Regions from separate parts of the Homo sapiens genome. Here all the other regions are linked to region 2. The links come from fine-mapping of genetic effects on gene expression. A gene starts in region 2. Each other region holds a variant in brackets. All regions are shown on one strand. Distances are from middle to middle. Region 1 overlaps LOC101926994 (a long non-coding RNA gene). Region 2 holds the start of FAM174B (family with sequence similarity 174 member B). Region 3 holds the start of LOC124903558 (a long non-coding RNA gene).

Region 1 (8,184 bases), 130 kb before region 2:
TCTCTCTCGCTCTTTCTCTCTTTTTATTTCTCTCTCTCTCTCTGTGTGTGTGTGTGGCCTCTCTTTAAAATAGCAGCTATATCTAACTTAAAAAAAGTCTAGTCTGAAAAATCTTTGCCTTTTAATTTGAAAGTTTTTCCCTTTAAGTTTACTGCAATTGTTGATTTATTTGGATTTATTTTCTACCACCTTATTATAGTCTATTGTATTTCTTCTGCTTTTTCTGTTTGCTCTTCTCTTCCACCACCACCTACCTCTTGGCTGATTAATGGTTTTGTTTTTCCTCTTCTTCTAGTTTTTTCTTCTTAGAATAACTATTCTATGTCTCTATAAGAATATCTATTCTTTTGGTGGTTACCTTAGTTATTCTGAGGTACATACTAAATAAAATTTAAGATTAATGAATTTCTAAGTTCTTTCAGATAGACCTTAGAATGTTTTAGATCAGCATCTTCAAATTGGAGTATTTATGTGTATGCATTCTGCAAGGTGTATGTGGATTTGTTTTAAGGAAATACATTTCCAAATCTCCTTTTTTTTTTTTTTGAGACAGTCTTGCTGTCACCTAGGGTGTAGTGTGGTGGCGTGATCTTGGCTCACTACAACCTCCACCTCCCAGATTCAAGTGATTCTCTTGCCTCAGCCTCCTGAGTAGCTGGGATTACAGGTGTCCACCACCACACCTGGCTAATTTTTTTTGTATTTTTAGTGGAGACGGGGTTTTGCCACGTTGGCCAGGCTGGTCTCGAACTCCTGGCTTTATGTGAATTGCCTGCCTCAGCCTCCCAAAGTGCTGGGATTACAGGCATAAGCCACAGCGCCTGGCCCAAATCTCCTATATTTATATGCACTCTTTTCTAAAATTGATCTGCCTTGGGAACTCTCCTGCGATAAAGTTGCAGTTTCCTTTCCCACTTCTTTCATAATCTCCCTTTTCCTAACTCTTGTCTATCCTGAATCTAACGATAGTACATTGGCCTAGGTGTACAAACCTTTAAGCTACCAATAAAGCTTTAATTAAAAAATATTGGCAGCTTGCTGGGTGCGGTGGCTCGCGCCTGTAATCCCAGCACTTTGGGACGCCGAGGCGGGCGGATCATGAGATCAAGAGATCGAGACGATCCTGGCCAACATGGTGAAACCCTGTCTCTACTAAAAATACAAAAATTAGTCGGGCGTCGTGGTGCAAGCCTGTAGTCCCAGCTACTCAGGAGGCTGAGGCAGGAGAATCACTTGAACCCAGGAGGTAGAGGCTGCAGTGAGCTGAGATCGCACCACTGCACTCCAGCCCGGGAGACAGAGCGAGACTCTGTCTCAAAAATATATATATATTTGCAGCCGAGTATAGTGGCTTACCCCTGTAATCCCAGCCTTCGGGAGGCAGAGGCAGGAGGATTGCTTGAGCCAGGAGTTGAGACCAATCTGGGAAACATAGTGAGACCCCGTCTCTACCAAAAAAAAAATAAACAAAAATTAGCTGGGTGCAGTGGTGTGTGCCTGTAGTCCCAGATACTTGGGAGGCTAAGGCAGTAGGATTAAGTGAGCCAGGGAGGTTGAGGCTGCAGTGAGCCATGATTGCACCCCTGTACTTCAGCCTGGGCAACAGAGCGAGACCCCCTTGCCCCCAAAATATGTATAATACACACATATAACATATATATGTATATATGTAACACACACATATAACATATATATGTATATATGTAACACACATATAACATATGTATATATGTAACACACACATATAACATATGTATATATGTAATACACACATGTAACATATATATGTCTGTATATATAGTTAAACAAAAATATTATATAAAATATATACACGCTAGATTTTCTCTTAAAAAAATTTTACATTTTTTTACACTGTTTTTTCTTTCGTTCTTTGTGGTTTGTGTGTGTGTGTGTGTGTGTGTATGCAGCAAAGCGAAACAGTGATATTGGGATTGCAGCAAATGAAAGTGAATCATTTATTGCAGGGCACCAAGCAAGGAGAATCAGGCAGCTCATGCTTAAGATCCAAACTTCCTGATGGCTTGTAAGCAAAGGTTTTTAAAAGCAGGGGAAAATTTCAGGAAAGGAGAAGTTACAGGCAAAATTGTAAATGAATACATGGAGATTATACATTGGTTTGGCCTTAGAAGATGGAATATCTCGAAGCAGGGTTAGAGGGTGGTGCTTAGAGGTCCTAGGTAGATTCAAAGATTTTCTGATTTGTAGTTGGTTGAGGAGGAGAAGCTTTCTTTAAAAAGCTGGGGTCAGCAGCAGAAGATGTGAGCACTGCCTTGTGGGTGTGACTTCCTCCAGGCCTCTCAGGAAGAACTTCAGGACAAAGAATGGTAGTCAAAGTGCAGTCCTCAGTTTGCCCCTTAGCTGAGGTCTACGTGCCAGCGGATCCATTTGGTGGGAGTTCTGAAAAACTCAGGGACATATGTTAAGTTGTTACGTAGGGAACCAACACCTTGTGACTCTAACTTCCTTGGCTATTGTTTGAAGCTACTGTTAACTTTCTTTTCTTTTCTTTTTTTTCTTTTTTTTTTTGAGACGGAGGAGTCTCGCTCTGTCGCCCAGGCTGGAGTGCAGTGGCGTGATCTCGGCTCACTGCAAGCTTTGCCTCCTGGGTTCACGCCATTCTCCTGCCTCAGCCTCCCAAGTAGCTGGGACTACAGGAGCCCGCCACCAGGCCCGGCTAATTTTTTGTATTTTTAGTAGAGATGGGGTTTCACCGTGTTAGCCAGGATGGTCTCAATCTCCTGACCTCGTGATCCGCCCGCCTCGACCTCCCAAAGTGCTGGGATTACAGGCGTGAGCCACCGCGCCCGGACATTTTTTTTTTTTTTTTTGAGAGGGAGTTTCACACTTCATGCCCAGGCTAGAGTGCAATGGTGCAATCTCGGCTCACCGCACTGTCCGCCTCCCGAGTTCAAGTGATTCTCCTTCCTCAGCCTCCTGAGTAGCTGGGATTACAGGTATGCGCCACCACACCTGGCTAATTTTTTGTATTTTTAGTAGAGACAGGGTTTCACCATTTTTGTCAGGCTGGTCTCGAACTCCTGACCTCAGGTGATCCACCTGCCTCGGCCTCCCAAAGTGCTGGTATTACAGGCGTGAGCCACCGCACCTGGCCTATATTTGCATTTCTAAGGGACTAAGTGGGAAGTGGGGAACCAGGGGAATGAGAAAAGAAGGGAGAGAAACAAACTATCTCTTAGAAAAATGAGGGGCACTTGGTTACAATTCCTCACTCAAATCAGAGGTTAAGAGTTCATATGTGTCACCAGGAGCTTGTCACCAACAAGCTGGGTTCTTGGCTGCCAGAACCAAGCCACTTCTACTGACTTTGGCTGATAGATGCAGAAGCACTTGTTCTTTTAACAAAGGCTTGTGGACGTAAGAAAGGCTCAGTGTCACTTTCCAGATAACCCAAAGAAATATTTATTCCTGGCTCTGAGCAGGTGGCAGAAGTGGAAGAAGCTGAGATGTGGCTGTGAGTCCTGACTTCACTGCTGTCCAGCGGAAAGAGTCTGAGCAGTCTAAACCCGAGGTTTCGCCAGTGTGAAATGGGGCTAATTATATAGACATATGGGTTTTACAAAGTTTTGACAAATCAGAACTTTTGTTTTATATGCTGGGTTGAAATCAAGGACCTGCTGGGTCTGTTCCTGCTACTTGTGGTTGGGTGGGGGAACAGAGGATAGAGAAGAAACTGTTCATCTCAGGTTGGAACGTGCCAGGTCTTCAGCCTTCCAGTGGCTTTTTAAAAAAACATTTTTATTTATTTATTTTTGAGACAGAGTATTGCTCTGTTGCCCAGGCTGGAGTGAAGTGGTGCAGTCTCGGCTCACTGCAGCCTCCGCCTCCCAGGTTCAAGAGATTCTCATTCCTCAACTTCCCGAGTAGCTTGGATTACAGGCATGTCCACCACAGCCAGCTAATTTTTTTTTTTTTTTTGAAATGGAGTCTCACTCTGTTGCCCAGGCTGGAGTGCAGTAGCGTGACCTCAGCTCACTGCAACCTCTGCCTCCTGGGTTCAAGGGATTCTCCTGCCTCAGCCTCCCCTGTAGCTAGGACTACAGGCGTGTGCCACCATGCCTGCTAATTTTTGTATTTTTAGTAGAGACAGGGTTTCACCATGTTGGTCAGGCTGGTCTCGAACTCCTGAGCTTAGGTGATCCGCCCACCTCGGCCTCCCAAAGTGCTGGGATTACAGGTGTGAGCCACTGTGCCTGGCCTTTTTTTGTGTTTTTAGTAGAGACGGAGTTTCGCCATGTTGGCCAGGCTGGTCTCGAACCCCCGACCTCAGGTGATCACTTCAGCCTCCCAAAGTGCTGGGATTACAAGCATGAGCCACCAAGCCTCGCATATCCAGTGGCTTTTGATGGCTGAAGTGCAAGTCACACCCCCTCTCTGAATTGCACCAGGCCTACAATTCACCAGATTTGCCAGGCTGGGTGGAAGGATATGTAAATCTGACTCAATTCACAGCCTCTCTTAACACTTCAATCAAAATTGCATCTAATTGAGGTTCATTCATAAACCTCATTGA[C/T]GTAAACAACTGCAAACATGGAGGAGCCCTCCCCAAAGCTTGATAATTACTTCACGATGAAAACTCAGCTGTCAGAACATCATTGTTGCTATGACAACTATGAGAGAAGCTGGTTGCCCAGGGTTACCCATGTTACCAGATGTCACTGGTGCTTGAGTGTTAGCTTCAAATGAGCCTCAGGAGCATAATGAGAAAAGGCAATGAGAACTATATAAATGGGTCTGAATAAGAGAACGTCTTTTTTTTTTTTTTTTTTAATCTTAAACCCCAATAGATTCAGGAAGTATCTATCTCATTACAGGACAATTGAGTTATATCTTGGAACCAGGGAGTCCTAAAATGACCTATCCTCTAAAAGGCCTTTCTTTCTCTTTTTAAAATTCTTTGTTAAATTTTTAATAAGTAATACACATATGTGCTTCAAGCTTTAAAAAATACAAAAGGCGGCCAGGTGTAGTGGCTCCCACCTGTAAACCCAGCACTTTGGGAGGCTGAGGCAGAAGGATCACTTGAGGCCAGGAGTTCAAGACCAGCCTGGGCAACCTAGTGAGACCCTGTCTCTTCAAAACTAAAAATAAAGAAATTACTCTCTGGTGCTTCAAGCAACATCTCTGGAGAGTCGTGTTGTGTGAATTGGTTTGTATACATTAGTATGTGTATGTATTCACACATTCATATACACTCAGGATACAGTTGGCCTAATTATCATTGGGGCCATAGGTAAAACTTATGAAGAATGTTCTCATGCTGAATTGTAATTTTCTTTTACCTGTAAAGTAAAATTTAGATCAATCCCATGTCTGTGTTTATTTTGAATATCATAGATATGCTGTACATTTAAAGAGGCAATGCTACTGGGATTATGTAGGTTCTAACTCATTTTAACAAGGGCACTGTCAGGCCTCTAAGCCCAAGCTAAGCCATCATAACCCCTGTGACCTGCATGTATACATCCAGATGACCTGAAGCAACTGAAGAACCACAAAAGAAGCAAAATAGGCAGTTCCTGCCTTAACTGATGACATTCCACCCTTGTGATTTGTTCCTGCTCCACCCTAACTGAACAACTGACCTCGTGACATTCCTTCTCCTGGACTGAGTCTCAGGAGCTCCCCACCAAGCACCTGGTGACCCCTGCCCCTGCCCACAAGAGAAAAACCCCCTTTAACTGTAATTTTCCACTACCTACCCAAATCCTATAAAACTGGCCCACCCCATCTCCCTTTGCTGACTCCTTTTTTGGACTCAGTCGGCCTGCACCCAGATGATTAAAAGGCTTTATTGCTCACACAAAGCCTGTTTGGTGGTCTCTTTACACGGACGTGCGTAACCAGTACCTGACCTGCGTAAGATAACTTGAGGCCAGGCGTGGTGGCTCATGCCTGTAATCCCAGCACTTTGGGAGGCTGAGGCGGGCAGATCACCTGAGGTTGGGAGTTTGAGACCAGCCCGACCAACATGGAGAAACCCCATCTCTACTAAAAATATAAAAAATTAGCCAAGCGTGGTGGTGCATGTCTGTAATCCCAGCTACTCGGGAGGCTGAGACAGGAGAATCACCTGAACCCAGGATGCGGAGGTTGTGGTGAGCCGAGATCACACAATTGCACTCCAGCATGGGCAACAGGAGTGAAACTCCATCTCAAAAAAAAAAAAAAAAAGACTTGAATATTGTATTTCTTAGGACTATACTAATATTCTTCTCACAAAAGGTCTATAAAATATTATTGCTGAAAAGTATTTTGTATCAAAATGTTTGCAGGCTGGGAGCGGTGGCTCACACCTGTAATCCCAGCACTTTGGGAGGCCAAGGCAGGCAGATCACTTGAAGTCGGGAGTTTGAGACCAGCCTGACCAACATGGAGAAACCTCATCTCTACCAAAAATACAAAATTAGCGGGGTGTGGTGGTGCATGCCTGTAATCTCAGCTACTCAGGAGGCTGAGGCAGGAGGATCACTTGAACTTGGGAAGCAGAGGTTGCAGTGAGCCGAGATCGTGCCATTGCACCATTGCACTCTAGCCTGGGCAACAAGAGAGAGACACCATCTAAAAAAAAAAAAAAAAAAAAGCTTCTCCCTAACCTGTATTGATATTCACTTGAATTATTATTTTCTAAAATTAAGAGCCCTATGACTACCTGTAAATCTTTTCACATATCATTTAAAAGTTTGTATTATTATTATTGATTTACAGCTTAATTATTATTTTTTCTTTACAGGGATGCCATTGATGTGCATGCTTTTATGTTTTTCAGAAAAGGGTATGTTTGGATGAAAGTAAAAAAAAATAAAGTAAAATCTTTCACTGTGAAAAAAAAAATTGCAAGGGTGTAGTGGCACATGTCTGTAGTGCCAGCACCTGGGGAGGCTGAGGTGGGAGGATCACTGGAGCCCAGCAGTTCGAGGCTGCAGTGAGCCATGATCATGCGACTGCACTCCAGCCTGGGTGACAGAGTGAGACTCTGTCTCAAAAAAAAAAAAAAGCCAAAGGTATATGGGGAAGTTCTTTTCTCCATCCTTACCCTACCGCACATATGCCCACTTCCTATCTTGCCCCAAAGGTATTTTTGTGCCTATACAAATCAATACAAAATATATTTTTCCTCTGCTTTTTGCGTAAAACAACATATACATGGAAGAATAATATATTATGACATTATATATAATAAAATATATTATGACATATATAATAAAATATGACATTATATATAATATCTTATGACATTATATATAATAAAATATATTGTGACATTATATATAATAAAATATATTGACATTATATATAATAAAATATATTATGACATTATATATAATAAAATATATTGTGACATTATATATAATAAAATATATTGTGACATTATATATAATAAAATATATTGTGACATTATATGTAATAAAATATATTGTGACATTATATGTAATAAAATATATTGTGACATTATATGTAATAAAATATATTGTGACATTATATGTAATAAAATATATTATGACATATATAATAAAATATATTATGACATTATATATAATAAAATATGTTATATGATGAAATATGATAAAATATATGATAAAATATACTATATGATAAAATATATGATAAAATATATATTATATATATTACATATAATATAACATAATATATTACATATAATATAATATAATATATTACATATAATATAATATATTACATATAATATATAATAATATATATCACATATAATATAATATATAATAATATAATATATCACATATAATATAATATATAATAATATAATATATCATATAATATAATATATAATAATATAATATATCACATATAATATAATATATAATAATATAATATATCACATATAATATATAATAATATAATATATCACATATAATATAATATATAATATAATATATCACATATAATATAATATATAATATAATATATTACATATAATATAATATATAATAATATATTATTATATTACATATAATAATATATTATTATTATATTTATTTATTTATTTATTTACTCTGTTGCTAGGCTGGACTGCAGTGGCATGATCTCAGCTCCTGGGGTCAAGCGATTCTTGTGCCTCAGCCTCCTGAGTAGCTGGGATTACCAGCATGCACCACCACACCAGGC
Region 2 (8,184 bases):
TTTATCATTGGCTACAATACTGGCAGTGGGTGTCCTTGAAATGACAGCCTCATTTTGCTCATTTTTGAGAAAATGCCTGCCAAAGACCAAGTGTAAAGTTTGTCAGTCACTCTCTTGATTAAAAATGGTCTTCCGTGAAAAAAGTGGCTAGTTCAGTTTGCAACTCTAGGAATTGTAAACATGCTTTTTCTTGAGTCAGTCATTATGCATGAATGTACAGCAGAAGTGATTTATTCCTATTTCCCATTTTATCATGTATAATATTAAAATGATCTTAAGGTCAAGATTTAATAATTTAATGGCTACCTCAAGGGCATTCTAAAGTGAAACTGATTTTTTTTTTTCCTATAGTGTATAGTTGTGAAGAATACAGCGACTATGAATATTGTGTACCTCGATTTGTGCTAAGGCACCATCAGTTTTCCTCACTGTTGCTTTTGCACTATTAGTGCAAATGTCAACATAGTGAAAAAGACACATAACATCTTATTATCATTATTGAATTAGTTTTCACTTTGAAGATTCCCTGAAAGGGTCTCAGAGACCCCAGGAGTCCACAAATCCCACTGTTAGAACTTCTGCTTTGGCTTACAGTCAATTCTGGAAGCAACATGACATGCTTCCAATAATCTCCCCTTCTCTGAAATCAACCAGATTTGGTTTTGTTGCCCGTTTACCATGTTAAAAATGTCCTTGTTTATGGTTATTTGAATTAAAATGTTTTTAAAGAACTCTAATTGAGGGCAATTTTTAAGTAAGCAAATGATTAGAAGGAAAGATTCTAAAGTTTCACGTTATGAAAAAAGTCTAACATTTATGCTTTCTACATTCTTGATGTTAGCATTAAACAATCAAGCATTGTTTAATGACTGATGTAGACCATCAGTCCACAAATTGTGGCAAAATAAGGAAAACAGCACTAATATTTTCTCTGTCCTATGGAAGCTTCCAGTGGCCTTGAGCTGGGTACTATTTGTCCCTACTTCAGATTTTTTTTTTTTTTTTGAGACAGAGTTTTGCTTTTGTTGCCCAGATTGGAGTGCAATGGCGCGATCTTGGCTCACCGCAACCTCTGCCTCCCGGGTTCAAGCGATTCTCCTGCCTCAGCCTCCCGAATAGCTGGGAATACAGATATGCACCACCACACCCAGCTAATTTTTATTTTTAGTAGAGACGGGGTTTCACCATGGTCTCGAACTCCTGACCTCAGGTGATCCACTTACCTTGGCCTCCCAAAGTGCTGGGATTACAGGCGTAGCCACCACGCCCAGCCTATTTCAGATATTAAAAACCTGGTATTCAGTGGTTAAATACTTGGCCAAGGCCATTCAGTGGTCAAACCTTTCATCCTGGCTAAGAGGCTCAAAGCCCAGGACCTCTTTGCTGTATCGTGCAGGAATTTCTGATAAGTACAAAAATAAGAGGCTGTGATAGCTGAGGTTTATGCCTTGGAGAACAGTTCTCCAAAATCATGGAATCAGAGGTGTTTCTTTAAAAACTTACTTTTATATATTCTATCATACTGATATGATGATGTTGACTCTCTACTAATGCAACATTTTTAACATACCAGAAGGTGATATTTCAGAGTTAGAAGAGACCTAAATCATGTGATCTATCCATATCTCTTATCACTGGGGCATATTTAACATGGAATGCATATTTAACATGCATTTCAGAAGTACCTTCTGGATGATGACTTCTGATAATCTGATTGTTGTCCATCCCCCCAGATCAAAATGAATTACACTGTAGGTGGCAGGCAGCTTCTAGGATGGCCCCAATGATCCCTGCTTCCTGATATTCATACTGTTGTGTAATTCCTTCTCCTTGAGTGTGGATAAAACCTGTGACTTGCTTCTAACTGATAGAATATGACAAAGGTGTGAGAATGTCACTTCTGTGATGAGGTTTCATAAGACAGTGACTTCTGTCTTGGTAGGTGACTCTTTCTATTGCTATCTTGACTTGCATACTTTGATGAAGCAAGTTGCTATGTTGGAAGGGCCCCATGCCAAGGAACTGAGGGCAACCTCTGGCCAACTGCCCCAAGGAAACTGAGGCTCCAGTCCAACAGCCAGTGCAGGGCTGAATCTGGCCAAAAAATGCTGATTGAGCTTGGAAGCAGATCCTTCCCCAGTTGAGCCTTCAGAGGAGACCCCAGCCCCAGCTGACACCTTGATTGCACCTTTGGGAGAGGCTCTGAAGCAGAGAACCCAGGTAACCTATGGTCAGTTTCCTGACCCACAGACTGTGAGATACTAAATGCATGTTGTTTTAAGCAGCTAGGTTTTAGGGCAATTTGTTATGCTGCAGTAGACAACTAATACACTGTACTATATTTGTCTCTTTTTCCAGCAGGACCAGAAATGGGCTGTTTAAGGTCCCTGGGACCTTGTCATGTCATGTGTATTTAACTGTTTACCCACCACCGAAAAGCTTCCTGCCAGGACCCATCTGCAGTGTAAAAGGGGAACCCTGAAGCCCTGGGAATGGCTCCTAGTACTTCAGGTAGGGGCTCTGTGTCCCCATCAGTTTCCACCTTTGGGCCTCCCACTAGAACTTCCTTAATTGTCTTTCTCCACCTAAGCATCATTTAGCTTACAAACCAGAGGCAGCAAGCCAATTATTCCCCGGAGAAACTTCAGCCAGGCAGGGGGGCATTAACCACACCAACTGGTGTTCCACAACAAAGGTATGAGAGGCAGAGATTCACATCCCAGTCCGGTTCGTAAGCAGAGGCGCATGAAATAAGAAACCCCTTTTGAGAAAGAGGGAAATTAGGGGAGATACTGAAATTATGCGTTGCATAGGACATCAGGCAACCACTTCACTGTCGGCTTCAGTTTTTGATCTGCAAGATGGGAGTCTACTTCTAGGTCCCATAGTTTTTGATTCTTAGTCTGACACAATGTGGGTTGCTGTGAGCTGGCTCTTTGGGTGCCAAGTCAGCTATCAAATGTGGGTAACAGAATACCTGTCTTCAAAGGGGGTTGTAGAATTAAATGAAATAAATAAAACACGTGAAACGTGTAACACAGGGCCAGCCCAAGTGTCATCGTGGCAGTTGCTGCTTCACCACGGGGTCTCAAGTCCCGAGGAATTGGGGTCGCGGGCGAGCGGAGCGCAGCCGGGACCCAGGCCGGGTGGCCTGCCCCGCCCACGTGGGGCCGCGGCCCGTCGAATGACTCCTTGCAACGTGTTGGTGGTGGCGGCGGCGGTGGCGCGGGCTCTTCCGGGCGCCGCAGCTTCCTGCCAAGCACCGCGCAGCCGCCTCCGCCGCAGGATCCCCCGGTGCAGGCCTCCGTGCTGGTGCGGATCCTGGAGCTCAGCCGCGCGCGCCCTGCCCGATCCTGTGCCGACCCACCGCACTATGCGCGCCGTGCCGCTGCCCGCCCCGCTCCTGCCGCTGCTGCTGCTCGCGCTCCTGGCCGCTCCCGCCGCCCGCGCCAGCAGAGCCGAGTCCGTCTCCGCGCCGTGGCCCGAACCCGAGCGCGAGTCGCGGCCACCGCCCGGCCCGGGGCCCGGGAACACCACCCGGTTTGGGTCTGGGGCGGCGGGCGGCAGCGGCAGCTCCAGCTCCAACAGCAGTGGCGACGCCTTGGTGACCCGCATTTCCATCCTCCTCCGCGACCTACCCACCCTCAAGGCAGCCGTGATCGTGGCGTTCGCCTTTACCACCCTCCTCATCGCCTGCCTGCTGCTGCGCGTCTTCAGGTGGGCCCTCCCGCCCTCTTCCTTCCCCCGCCGGCCGACAGGGCGGCATCGCCAACCTGCTGTCGCCGCGCGCCCGCCCCACCTGCACGCACAGGTGCCCTGGTGCGCCCCAGCCAGCCGTGTGCCTCCTGCCCTGCCCGGGAGAGTGGGTGGGGGGCCGGGGTGTGCTCGTCTGGATTTTCCTGGTACATGTTTTAGGAATTTTCTTTCCTCTCTTTAACTATATATATAAAATAAATATGTGGTTCCCATTTGTTGGCTTTCTGCTAATGCTGAACACTAACAATAGCGCTCTGAATTCTGACAGCGTTTCCCATAATTTATTTTTATAATCATTTCACAGATGAGGAAAACATTTTCAGAGAGGCAAAATGGCTCATCTAAGGTAAACTCAGTGGTGGAGGTAGGACTTGAACCCAGGCCTGTCTAACTTTAATCTCGCTACTCCCTCTCCCTTCTACCATCTGCAGCTCCCTCACGCCCCGCCTACTTTTTCTTCTTCTTCTTCTTCTTCTTTTTTTTTTTTTTGCTACTGAAAGAAGCAGTTTCTAGTGTGGGGGGTAGTAGAATTGCCTCCAGAATTACGCTGGAGGGGTGCTTTGCACCAGGGGTTGGAGCTGAGCTTCAGGATTCTAGGCGACCCTTGGTGGCCTCCCTTATTTTCTGTTGGTGGGGGACACAGACGGCTTTCCTAGGCTCCTGCCTAAGTTGCGCTAGATGAACATTCACAGGGGCATGAGGGATCTTGGAGAGCCTTTTGTAGGTTGCTCACGTTCAGGGATAAAGTGTCTGGTAAATTAGGAAGGATGTCCCAGGTCCTTGATCCCTGTCCATCCTGGTGGACAGGGCTAAGAGGAATGCAAGGACATTTCCTTTAATGCCTGGGAAATCCTGTTTTTGCAGGAAATGAACCAAACCTGTCCTGTTACTGAGGCCCGCCTGGAAGTCTGGGTGTGTGTGTCAGCTGTTCACTGCTGCCTCCCTCTGCTTCCAAGCGTACACACAGTGCTTTGGTGTTTGATCAGCTGTGGCAGGTTGGGCTTCAGGGCTTGCTCTCCTGGTAGCATTTTCAGTGCAACAGCAGAAACCAGACCAGGAAAAGGCAGAGTTAGGAGCCATCTATGTATTGAGCTTTGCTGTCAGTTGTGTGTGACTTTGAGTCCAGGTGTTTTCTTCTGTGTCTGTAGGATTAGATGCCAGTGGTCTGAGAAAATGGAGAAAGGGGAAGTATGGTCCCACGCTCACCTCACCATTCCCTGCCTTGTCTCAGGCCACATCGTTCCTCACTCTGCTGGTCTCCTTGATGTTCTCTGGGTTGAAATGCTCCTGTCTTCTTCCCACTCTACCCACTGGCCTCAATCCTCTGTTTACAAACTCTAGCAGCTCTCTGTGGCCACTACCTAGGCATGGCAATACCTGGGTGTGGCATTTGGGGCCCTTGCAAGCTGGCCCCCGTCTGCAACGCAGACATCAACCAGCGCTTCTGAGCCTAGTACCTTGTCACTTGCTCCTTATGCTCTGTGGTTTCCCGCTTCTAGCCTAATTCTTGCCTCTATATTCTACAAGTGCGTGCAGCCACCAAGGCCCAGCTCCCATCCTCCTTCCTCTGTATAGTTTTCCTGGACATTTGAATGAGGCTGTCACTATTTTCTGACCTCCTCATCCCTAATCTGTGCATCCTTCAGTCCAACCATGCCATGCTGGCTTCTGCACTCAGCAGAGGGCCCTTGAGGTTGGGAAGTCCAGTTCATCTTCGTGTCTCCATGCCCGATGCGGGCCTGCCATTCAGCAGAGGTGCCATTGTCATCTACGGACTTCCTGATTGTTCAGTTGGAGTGAAGGTTAATGCCTAGAGCAGCTCTGAGTCTGGAGGTTTGAAACATTTAGCTCAAAATAGGCCCTGGAGTCCACAAGGCTGTGTATTTTTTTTAGAAGGTATTTGAACAATTTTGCTAGTCTGCTGTTTATTACTCAGGAGTAGGGGAGAAAAGAAGGCAGCATGCACCCAGATGTGAGGGGTGCGAGACTCATGTTGGAGTGGGTAAGCCAGCACTCTAGCCTGGAAGAGATGGGTCTTTAGTAGCTTGGGTGTGGAGTGTTGAAAGAAGTTTACGACTTCATAGGAGAAGCTGGTTATGGACATGATCTGCGTCTCTTCCCAGGAAGGCAATCTTGTTAGGGTGAGTTTTCAGGTGGACAGCTGCCACCCCAGATTCTGATCTAGAGAGGACTTTGTAATATTTTACAGCTTGCAAGGGCCCTGATGGTGCACAGTCCCCATGTGTTTCTTTGCAGTTGAGAAAGTTGCATCCCAGGAAGTGGAATAAGTCATTGCTAGATTCTAGAACACTCTGCAAGTCTGTGTAGCCAAGGCAGGGCCAGCACCTCATCTGTGCTATTCGGTCTGTACTGTGGCCTTTCCCCTGTCCCACGCTCCCCTGTAACCTTGGTTAGTCAGCTAACCAAATGCCTGCTCTGCTGGCTGGGGGCCCTCCTTCCTTTCTCCCTCTGCAACTCCTTAGCCTGCGGGCACCGAGTCCTGGAAATTCCACCACCTGAGTCTCCAAGAGACTGTCTCACCTCTGCCCACACCACCTTCCCCAGTGAAGCTTCGCCACCTGCCGCCGTTTCTACCTTGTCGCTCCTGAATTGCAATAATATCTGTTAAGCTGGGGTTCGTGCCTCCAACCTTGTCCCTCTCCAGTCTGTCCTCCCTCAACTGCAGGAATGCCTGTCTCATCCTTCTTCTACCCCTCCCTGCCAATTCTCCCTGCATACAGACTCCTTGATGTGTGGGCAAGGCTGACTCTTCAGATCAGGGTGCTGCCTCCCTCCTGAGCCCCCATCTCGGCTCTGCTCAGTGCGCCTCCTGCTTTGCTGGACTTCCTGGGGTTCTCTGGAGGCACTGCGTGGCCTGAGCATCTTGTCCCACTCTACCCCTCTGCCTGGAGTCCCCTCTGTCACTAAGACTGCGTGGTCAGTTCGGTGCTGTTTGACCTCGTTGCTGTTGCCTCCTCTGAGAAGCCTCTGCAGCTAGGGCCCCTCTGTGCTTCCAAAGCACACTCGATTTTTGAATTCCCTCTTCAGAGTCAAGTGCCACCGAACTTCTTCTGAGCAGGACTAGGCATTAATCTTCTGTGTTTCCCTAATACCTAGTGTGGTTCCAGGCACAAGCTGGCATTTAATAAAGATATTTTTAGCAAAAGAATGTTGAGCTCTCAAGGATTTTACATTGCTGATGTCTCTCAAAATGTGCTAGACTAGCTGCATGACTGATGCTGGATACCTGCGAGGTAGGAATTTGTACAATGTAGATAAAGGAGAGTGTAGTAAGTATGATTGCGTATAAAATGGCAGTCCTAGCCTATTTCTCTGTTTTCTCTGAAGGAGTCACCTTACCAGACAACAGAAAAAAATTGGATCCAAGGAAATTAGAAGCAAAGAATGTGTCTTTTAATGAAAAAGATGTATACTTTTAATCAAGTGATTCCATTCTTAAAGTATGTACATTTTCCACTGCACTATATATTCTTTGCTTCTAATGTGAATGATTAGAAGAGAAAGCCAAGATGCAAGTGCAATGATATTCAGAGAAGCTCTGTTTGATAGTGAAAAGGTTTAAATAATCCAAGTGTCCAACAACTGGGCATTGGTTAAGCAAATCATGGCAATCTTTATGGCAGAATACTGTGCAGCTGTTCAAAATGATGACATTGAGATAATACTTGCTATATATTTTTGAGTCTGAAACAGGTCACAAAGTGACATGTATAGTATTAGCTCATTTAAATAAATTATAAACATGTATATACGAATGTGCAGATAAATCTGTGTGTCTGTGCATGTGGGTGATTATCATATTTTTTTATTATTCACGATATGTTTCTGCATAGTTTGAATTCTTTTACAATCCAGAAGCATGTAGTTATGATGTGTGTATGTTGAGTATCCCTGTGTGTATACTCAGCTCCTGGCCGCATTCTTGGATGTGTCTTTCTGAGGACCAGTATGAGAGCATCTGGGGTGTACACCTGGGAGTGGGGCTTCTGGATCCTAGGGGGTGCTCATTCTTGATTTCCTTGAGCAGGCACCAGTGTAGGTTTCCATCTGCAGAGCCTGAGGGTTCTCAGATTCTCACATCATATCCAACACTTAGTATTATCTTACTTTCTAATGCTTTCCAATCTGATGGGTATAATTTGGTATTCATTGCTTTATTTTGTATTTCTTCATTTTCTACCATAGTTGAGCCTCTGTCTCTTCCAAATGTTCTCCTTAATCAATCTGATTTCCCCATCTGTAGAATCACGTCCACCTTTTTAAATGTATTTCATCATTAAGGCAAACCATTTTTAGACAGGAGACAAAAATCGGAAGGAGGGAAAGCTGGCTGGAGACCGAGGGCCCTTTGTTGGGTACCTTCACATGTGTGAGAGTGGTCCTACAGGTACCTGGTGTGGTGAACCC
Region 3 (8,184 bases), 150 kb before region 2:
TACTTGGGAAGCTCAGGCTGGAGGATTGCTTCAGCCCAGGGGTTTTAGGCTGTAGCGCACTATGATCTCACCTGGGCAACACCTTGTCTCAAACAAAACAAAACAAAACCCAAAACCTATTTAACAAATCTGGTGTCCAATAAGAGAACTGTTAATGGTTAACTACGGCATACTCATCTGCTGGAATACTGTGCAGACTGTAAAACTCATGAAAATTCTTACTGATATAAAAAAGTACATTATACGTAAATACAAAATGTAGGTTATAAAACTATGTCTAGTATTATTTTAAGACAAATACAGTTGTACAGATGATTAGCTTAATAGTGGTTATTTCTTGGTAGTCACATTTTGGGTGATTTTCTTTGTATTTTTCATGTTTTCTGTTGAGCACAATTTGCTTCAGTAATATGAAATATAACAGTAATTTCCAAACGTTAAGTAAACAAGATAACAAATTGTACACACAGTATAATCCCCCCAAAACAAACTTAAGTCTAGTCTAAGAACGAGTGACTGCATTATTAGAGTATGGGTTCTTTTAAATTTTTTCTTTTTTTTTTAACTGAAGTTCTTAGAATAAGGTATTTTAAAATTTAAAATACATTTTCTCTTTTGTAACAGGAAGCCTATGTTAATGAAAGTCTGGAGACAACTTAAGACCTGAGGCTGTACTCTGAAGCTTGTGCTCCGGTATGCCAATGGCATTTGCAGAAAAAGTTGTCCGATATTTTATCTGAACCATATATACAAAATGAGACAAAAAAGGAGGTAGTCACTGCAAACTATAAGGACACAAATGGGGCAGGGTCCTTTGGAGGAAATGCTATGAAGGAAAGTTGCATTCTTTTCTCAGACTGAGGGGAGGGAGGGTTCCTGACCTTTCTAGATTAAAGGATTCTTTAGAAACTCTTTCCACCGCTTCTTTGCCAAACGATGGACGAGTCTGAAGTGAAGCCTCAGAGGGCATGGATACACAAAGGAGTGGCTAAAGGAAAATTCTCTTAAACCTCTGATTGGGTCAAAAATCCACCCTTAAGCCTTATAATAGAAGGCTTGACCACGCCCTCCGCCGCCCCCCTTCACATTACACCATTATACCATTAATAGTAATACAATTTTGATCACAGCACAGGTGTTAAAAATCCCTACCAGCCCGAAGAAACCATAAGGGATCTCTTCATGAAGAAAATAATGTCTTTTCCCCAGCTGTCACTGTCGTGTGCCCTCCATTGGAAGCCTTATTACATTCAGGCTTTTTTTTTTTTTTTTGATTACATTAACCTCCCAAACCTTTGGGAGGCAAGTATTACTATTTTGTTTTAAATAAGCAAGAAAAAGGTCACATTTCAGAAACATGCCAGTGGCCTCACAAATTTCTTAGCAAGCATGAGAGAATCCGAATCCCAAATGTAAGATGACACATTTATAAATAAAACCAAGGACAAATGTCTCCTTTATTCTAAATATACCATCACACTCTGAGTAGCTGGGGTTAACTATTTTTACCCACACCGGCTCTTTTGCATCTCAAACTCATGTAAAACAAAAACGGTGAGAAATGAAAATGGACCCTGGACCAACTGCCCCGGCGGAGTCAAAGGGTTTGTCTTTCAGCACTAGATCCGTGGACACGAAGGGGAAGCTGTGGGCCTTCAGCACTTGACGATTGTGCTTTATTTCTTGCATTTTGTAATACACAGCGACCGATGTCTAAATGTTTATTTCCTGAAAAGGTGTCCAAGGTGGCTGATATAAATTAACAGAATTTCAGATTTTAGCACACATTCAAGGTCCTAGGGCAGCTCCCATCTACCGTCAAAAAAAAAAAAAAAAAAAATTCCAGCATTTGGACAGGGCGGGGAAGGTACTTTAAAACCCAGATCATTGAGATTTTTCTCCTTCGTTTGGAGGAAGGTAGGGTTTGTTCTAACGCTTTGCACAAAGGCGGGAAACGGTCATCAAAGCTGTTGCGAAGGGAAGAGCCAATGCATTAATTCGATCCAAGAGGACTCGCCTCGTTGGATTTGCAGCAACCTAATCTCTCGCTCAGGAAGAAAACGCCACGATAAAGAGTTTTCTGTCCTCCTTGTTTGCACGGAGCAGCAAACGCAGAGACAAAAGAAACGGGCCCCGACTGGTAAGCACGCTGGCAGCTTTGCGGAACTGCGCCGCGGGATTCCCCGCAGGGCCTGGGTCGATGAACTCCGACCAGGCGGAGGGCGCGTCCGCTTGGCGCGGTTGTCCCCGCCCAGGCCCATGTTCAGTCGAACAGCCCCCACGGCTGGGTAAAACCACTCAGTTCATCTCGCCCGGCTCCTCGAACGCGGCCCTTTAAGGGGCTCGCAGCCTCAGGGACGCCGGGCTGACCCCGCCCCCGGCTGCCGCCATCTTGTTGTTTTCCCCTGTCCCTCCGGGCCGGCCACGTGGCACGGCTCCGCGGAAGCGAAGGCACCGCCCCAACTTCCGGCAGGACTGGTTCTAGCCGCCCGCGGGACGCAGACGCGCGGCTGCCCCCTGGCGGCTGGCCGCGGAGCTCCGGCCGCGCCCTGCCCCGCCTTCCTCCGCCATTTCATTCCCTGCCTGCAGCACGTCCGCGTTCCGCCACCAGCCTTGGCGCACAAGCGTGCTCCGAGGGCGGGGCCGCTCCGGGCACCACGCCTAGTGCGGGAGCGTTTTTTAGTCTGGTTCACCGAGGGCTAGAAGGTCACCTACATGTTTACACACATTTAATTTAATTATTAATTTTTTATTTTGTTTTATATTTTTGAGACAGGGGCTCACTCTGTCCCCCAGGCCGGAGTGCAGTGGCGCGACCACAGCCTTCTGCAGCCTCAGCTTCCGTGCTCAAGGGACGCGCCCGCCTCAGCCTCCCAACATGCTGGGATTACGGGCGTGAGCCACCGCCCGGGAACAACTTAATTAAAAAAAAAAAAGCCATACGGTTGCCTCGAGGTATTTTGGTATGCGGTGCTTGGTGCTTCCAGACTAACACATGAGGCCCCAACCTTGGTTTTCAGACCTGGCTTCTGCCCAGAGCCCCAAGCCATGTCAGACCAGGGCGTTTCCCAGGCGGTCCCGGGTCCGCAGTGCAGGGTGGCGCTGGGGGCGAGGGGGACGACGAGCGCGGGGTGGGCACGGTGCGGCCGGGGGGCTGGGGAGGCGCACGGGGCGGGGTGCAGCTCCAGGGACCTGGTCAGCACCCTTTACCAGTCCTATTTCTTGGTTTTCTGGACGTTCTTCTCTCCTTGGAGCTGCTCTTGTCTTTCCCATTTCATCTCCAAACCGATTTTGATTTCCTGAACGTTTGTCTTGAGCAAGGCCTGCGTTATCTTAGGTAATCCTCCTAGCAGCCTTTGATATGGAAGCTCTTTCTACTCACAC[T/C]GGCGCTCAGCAAGAGTAATTTGTTCATGGGGTAGAGCCTGGTTGGAATCGAGGGCACGTAAGTTTCCACTAGACATTGAGGTTCTCAGATAGTCCTCCAGCCAGGCAGCATCTCCAATGTCGGGGAGCTCGTTGGAAATGCCAGTGTTAGGAGTCTATCCCGGACCTTCTAAATGGGAAATTCTGAGGACGGTGGCGGGTGGGGCCCGAGAAGCTGTGATTACTAGGCAGCAAGGTGATTCCGAGGCACACTGAAGACCCCTTTCCCTCACAGCCCTTCTCAGGGTAAGGAAAGGGAGACTTGTCTTTATTGAGTGCTGATTCCATGGCATTTTGCATAATTCTGTGATGTAATCCTCCCTACCACTCTTTTATAGAAGAGGAAACTGTAGCTCAAACTTTCCATGAATTTAGAGTGCCAATATTTATGTAAAATGATACGATTGTATGTGCCTTTTGCTTGTACCATGTATGCATAAAATATCTCTGGAAGAATATTCAGGTGTTAACATAGTTTTACCTCCGGGGAGAGAAGGATGTAGGTTGCTAGGGTGACTGAGTTGGGATTTTTTTTTTTTTTGGTAAGATTTAGTAACTTGTGGCCGGGCGCGGTGGCTCACGTTTGTAATGCCAGCACTTTGGGAGGCCGAAGCGGGCGGATCACAAGATCAAGAGATCGAGGCCGCGCGCGGTGGCTCACGCCTGTAATCCCAGCACTTTGGGAGGCCGAGGCGGGCGGATTACGAGGTCAGGAGATCGAGACCATCCTGGCTAACACGGCGAAACCCTGTCTTTACTAAAAATACAAAAAATTAGCCGGGAGTGGTGGCGGGTGCTTGTAGTCCTGGAGGCTGAGGCAGGAGAATGGCGTGAACCTGGGAGGCGGAGACTGCAGTGAGCCGAGATCGCGCAACTGCACTCCAGCCTGGGCAACAGAGCGAGACTCCGTCTGAATAAAAAAAAAAAGAAATTGAGATCATCCTGGCCAACATGGTGAAACCCCGTCTCTACTAAAAATACAAAAATTAGCTGGGCGTGGTGGCACGCGCCTGTAGTCCCAGCAGCTCGGGAGGCTGAGGCAGGAGAATCTCTTGAACCCGGGAGGTGGAGGTTGCAGTGAGCCGAGATGGCGCCACTGCACTCTAGCCTGGGCAACAGAGCGAGACTCCCTCTCAATAAAAAAAAAAAATTTAGTAACTTATGAATTTGGACCATGTGAACCTATTACTTGTTCCAGGTAAAACTGAACAGTTGAAAAGTATGCTGGGCTAGGCGTAGTGGCTCAAGCCTGTAATTCCAGCGCTTTGAGAGGCCGAGGTGGGAGGATCGCTTGATTTCAGGAGTTTGAGACCAGCGTGGGCAACGTAGACCCCTATCTCTATTTTTAAAATATACTCTAAAGGCCGGGTGCGGTGGCTCAAGCCTGTGAGGGCCGGGCACCGTGGCTCCCAGCACTTCGGAAGGCTGAGGCGGGCGGATTGCCAGAGGTCAGGAGTTTCAGACCAGCCTGGCTAACGTGGTGAAACCGCCTCTCTACTAAAAATACCAAAAAAAAAAAAAAAAAAAAAAAAAAAAAGAAAATTAGCCAGGCATGGTGGCGCATGCTTGTAGTCCCAGCTACTCGGGAGGCTGAGGCAGGAGAACCACTTGAACGGGAGGCAGAGGTTGCAGTGAGCCGAGATTGCGCCACTGCACTGCAGCCTGGGCAACAGAGGGAGACTCCGTCTCAAAAAAAATAAAAATTATCTATCTATCTATCTATCTATCTACCTACCTACTTACATACATACACACTAAGATCTACCTACCTGCCTACCTACATACATACACACTAAGAACAGTATTAGAACTAAAACCAGAATTTGAATTGAGGTCTGACTGGCTCCGGATTCCATATCCTCTCATGATTACACATGAAAAACTGTTTTAAACATAAAATGCTCTGCCGGGCGCGGTTGGTCACGCCTGTAATCCCAGCAGTTTGGGAGGCCGAGGCCGGTAGATCACTTGAGGTCAGGAGTTCAAGACCAGCTTGGCCAATATGGTGAAACCCCATCTTTACTAAAACTACAAAAATTAGCTGGGCGTGGTGGCACGTGCCTGTAGTCTCAGCTACTTGGGAGGCTGAGGCAGGAGAATCGCTTAAACCCAGGAGGCAGAGGTTGCAGTGAGCTGAGATAGTGCGACTGCACTGCAGCCTGGGCAACAGAGACTCTGCCTCAAAACAAAAAAGCTCTATAAATTTCAGGTGTTGTTATTAATAATGAAATATTAAATTATTTCTTAGGGCCAGGCACCATGGCTCATGCTTGTAATCCCCACACTTTGGGAGGCCAAGGCAGGAGGATCGCTTGAGCTCAGGAGTCAAGACCAGCCTGGGCAACATAGTAAGACCTCATCTCTAAAAAAAATAAATAAACTATTTCTTAGAAATGTAGTTCCTGTTTAGACCTTTGAACAATGACCATGTCTAGTGGTCTCTCCATAGCACATGATGTATAAAATTGTTCTTATTTTCATTACTAACAGCTACAAAATAACTATAAAGTAGATCATAAATATGCCATATGTAAATATGTATACATAGTGCTTTTATTTTTATGTGGAATCTAAATCAAATATGTGAAGAGCTTCTTGGGTTGGGCATTTATTCTGCCACTTTTTAAGGGGCATTGCAAAGGCAATTCAGGGCTTTGTGACTTTGGACATGTAACTTAACCTCTCAGCGCTTCAGTTTGCTCCTTTGTAAAACAGATTTGTAAAAAGTGCTTGTTCCAGGCTGGGCTTGGTGGCTCACTCCTGTAATCCCAGCACTTTGGGAGGCTGAAGCAGTGGATCGCCTGAGTCCAGGAGTTCGAGACCAGCCTGGGCAACAAGGTGAAATGCCCTCTCTACTAAAATTACAAAAATTAGCTGGGTGTGGTAGCGTGTGCCTGTAATCCCAGCTACTCTGGGGGTGCTGAGGTGGGAGGATCGCTTGAGCCCAGGAGGTCGAGGCTTCAGTGAGCCCAGATGGTGCCATTGCACTCCAGCCTCGGCAACAGAGTGAGACCCAGTGTCAACAAATATATAAGTAAACAAATAAATAAATACATAAAGTACTTGCCTGTAGGCTTGTTGTGAGGTTGGATTGTGTCACGGTATATACCTTATTTGGAATATTGCTTGGCACAGTCATTGTTAGATAAATAAAAAAAATCAAAAGAGATGTAGAAATAGAAGTTTGATGAGAGTTCAGAGGAAAAAGATTTCTTTTTCTTTTTTTCCTGAGGCGGAGTCTTACTCTGATTCCCAGGCTGGAGTGCAGTGGCACGATCTTGGCTCACTGCAACCTCTGTCTCCTTGGTTCAAGCGATTCCAGAGGAGAAAGATGTTAATGTTTGTTTTGTACCTAGAACCTCATCGCTGGATGGGATTGTAAAGATCTGTGACTATTTTACACATTTGTTCTTTTTTTTTTTTTTTTGAGACAGAGTCTTGGTCTGTTGCCCATGCTGGAGTGCAGTGGTGTGATTTCGGCTCACTGCAACCTCTGCCTCCTGGGTTCAAGTGATTCTCCTGCCTCAGCCTCCTGAGTAGCTGGGATTACAGGTGCACGCCACCAAGCCTGGCTAATTTTTGTATTTTTAGTAGAGACGAGGTTTCACTCTGTTGGTCAGGCTGGTCTCGAACTCTGACCTCAGGTGATCTACCTGCCTCGGCCTCCCAAAGTGCTTGGATTACAGGTGTGAGCCACTGCACCTGGCCTCCCATTTATTCTTAGCAGTAACAGTTGGTCCCTGAAATTAGGAAACTGACTCTATTGTGATCTTCCAAGAGCTACATTGTCCAGCCCCTGGGCCTGTACATCCTTATGGAGTGAAGACTGACAGTTTTCCCTTAGGTCAGTGGAGCTACAGTGGCGTGTTGGAGTCAGCTGCTCAGAATGATGATGCACTTTTCTTTCCAACTTTGGTTTCAATGACATCATGTTGGTAGCTTGAAACTGGCCATAGCAGGGGTATTTACACCACAGGAATAGGTAAACACTACATATTAAGGCTTTTCCCCTTGGAGATGCCTTGTTAAATATTTACCAACACTCCACTGCCTGTTACAACACAGCAAAAGCCCCTCTGAGAGAAGGCCAGAGAATGTACCTAACTCCTCCCAGGTTGTCCAGTGTTTCATTGTCCCTGGACTGAAGAGTCCCTCAGTGGCCTTTGCTGAGATATTTCAACACCCTAGTCTCTTAAACTGTAAACAAAGGAGAGTCATGAGTTATTTCTGGGTGAGTCAGTCCAATATTGCACAAGCATTTCTGGGGGTAGTAGAGGGGAGGCAAGAGGGAAACTGGGTAGGCTGGGGAGCTATCTAACTGCCCAAGACACTTGAATCCTAAACAAACGGGAACTAAATGAGAGGTGGGAGGGACATAGTCTTTTCTGACGGGAACTGTCTGTGACTCATTCTCTTTCAGGAGTCAGAAACTCCAAAACCTGTGGGAGTGGGGAGGGGCGAGCAGTGCGGTTTTTAGAGAGGTGTGGAGTTATTATAGGGACTCTTAAAATTCTTCTCCCTTGCTCAGTGTGGTGACTCATACCGGTAATCCCAGCACTTTGGAAGGCAGAGGCAGGAGGTTTGCTTGAGCCTAGAAGTTCAAGACCAGCCTGGGCAATGTAGCAAGACCCCAACTGTATAAAAAATAAAAATAATTAGCCAGACATAGTGGTGCATGCCTGTAGTCCCAGCTACTTGGGAAGCTTAAAAATCTACCTCCATTTAACCTGGTAGATTTGGGGATGTGTGTGGTGGGCTGAA

What was found. PIP is the estimated chance that this variant, and not a neighbour inherited with it, causes the effect.
Region 1: its variant is fine-mapped to the expression of FAM174B in whole blood (TOPMed, PIP above 0.99).
Region 3: its variant is fine-mapped to the expression of FAM174B in whole blood (TOPMed, PIP above 0.99).

What each region holds. Positions count from the first base shown.
Region 1 is chr15:92,777,419-92,785,602 of GRCh38, reverse strand. LOC101926994 (a long non-coding RNA gene) reads left to right here. Exons shown (of 3, transcript XR_001751667.3): 3 at 5,377-5,537. Among named protein-coding and RNA genes, the nearest start is that of CHASERR, 100 kb to the left of the region's middle. The variant C/T (reference allele first, on the strand shown) is at 4,553.
Region 2 is chr15:92,650,849-92,659,032 of GRCh38, reverse strand. FAM174B (family with sequence similarity 174 member B) reads left to right here and starts at 3,258. Exons shown (of 3, transcript NM_207446.3): 1 at 3,258-3,717. The coding sequence starts at 3,374. RefSeq lists silencers at 3,082-3,131, 3,412-3,611, 3,712-3,761, 3,812-3,881.
Region 3 is chr15:92,803,602-92,811,785 of GRCh38, reverse strand. LOC124903558 (a long non-coding RNA gene) reads left to right here and starts at 1,902. Exons shown (of 2, transcript XR_007064767.1): 1 at 1,902-2,140; 2 at 2,777-3,881. RefSeq lists enhancers at 2,117-2,236, 2,173-3,023, 7,295-7,344 and a silencer at 2,397-2,636. The variant T/C (reference allele first, on the strand shown) is at 3,385.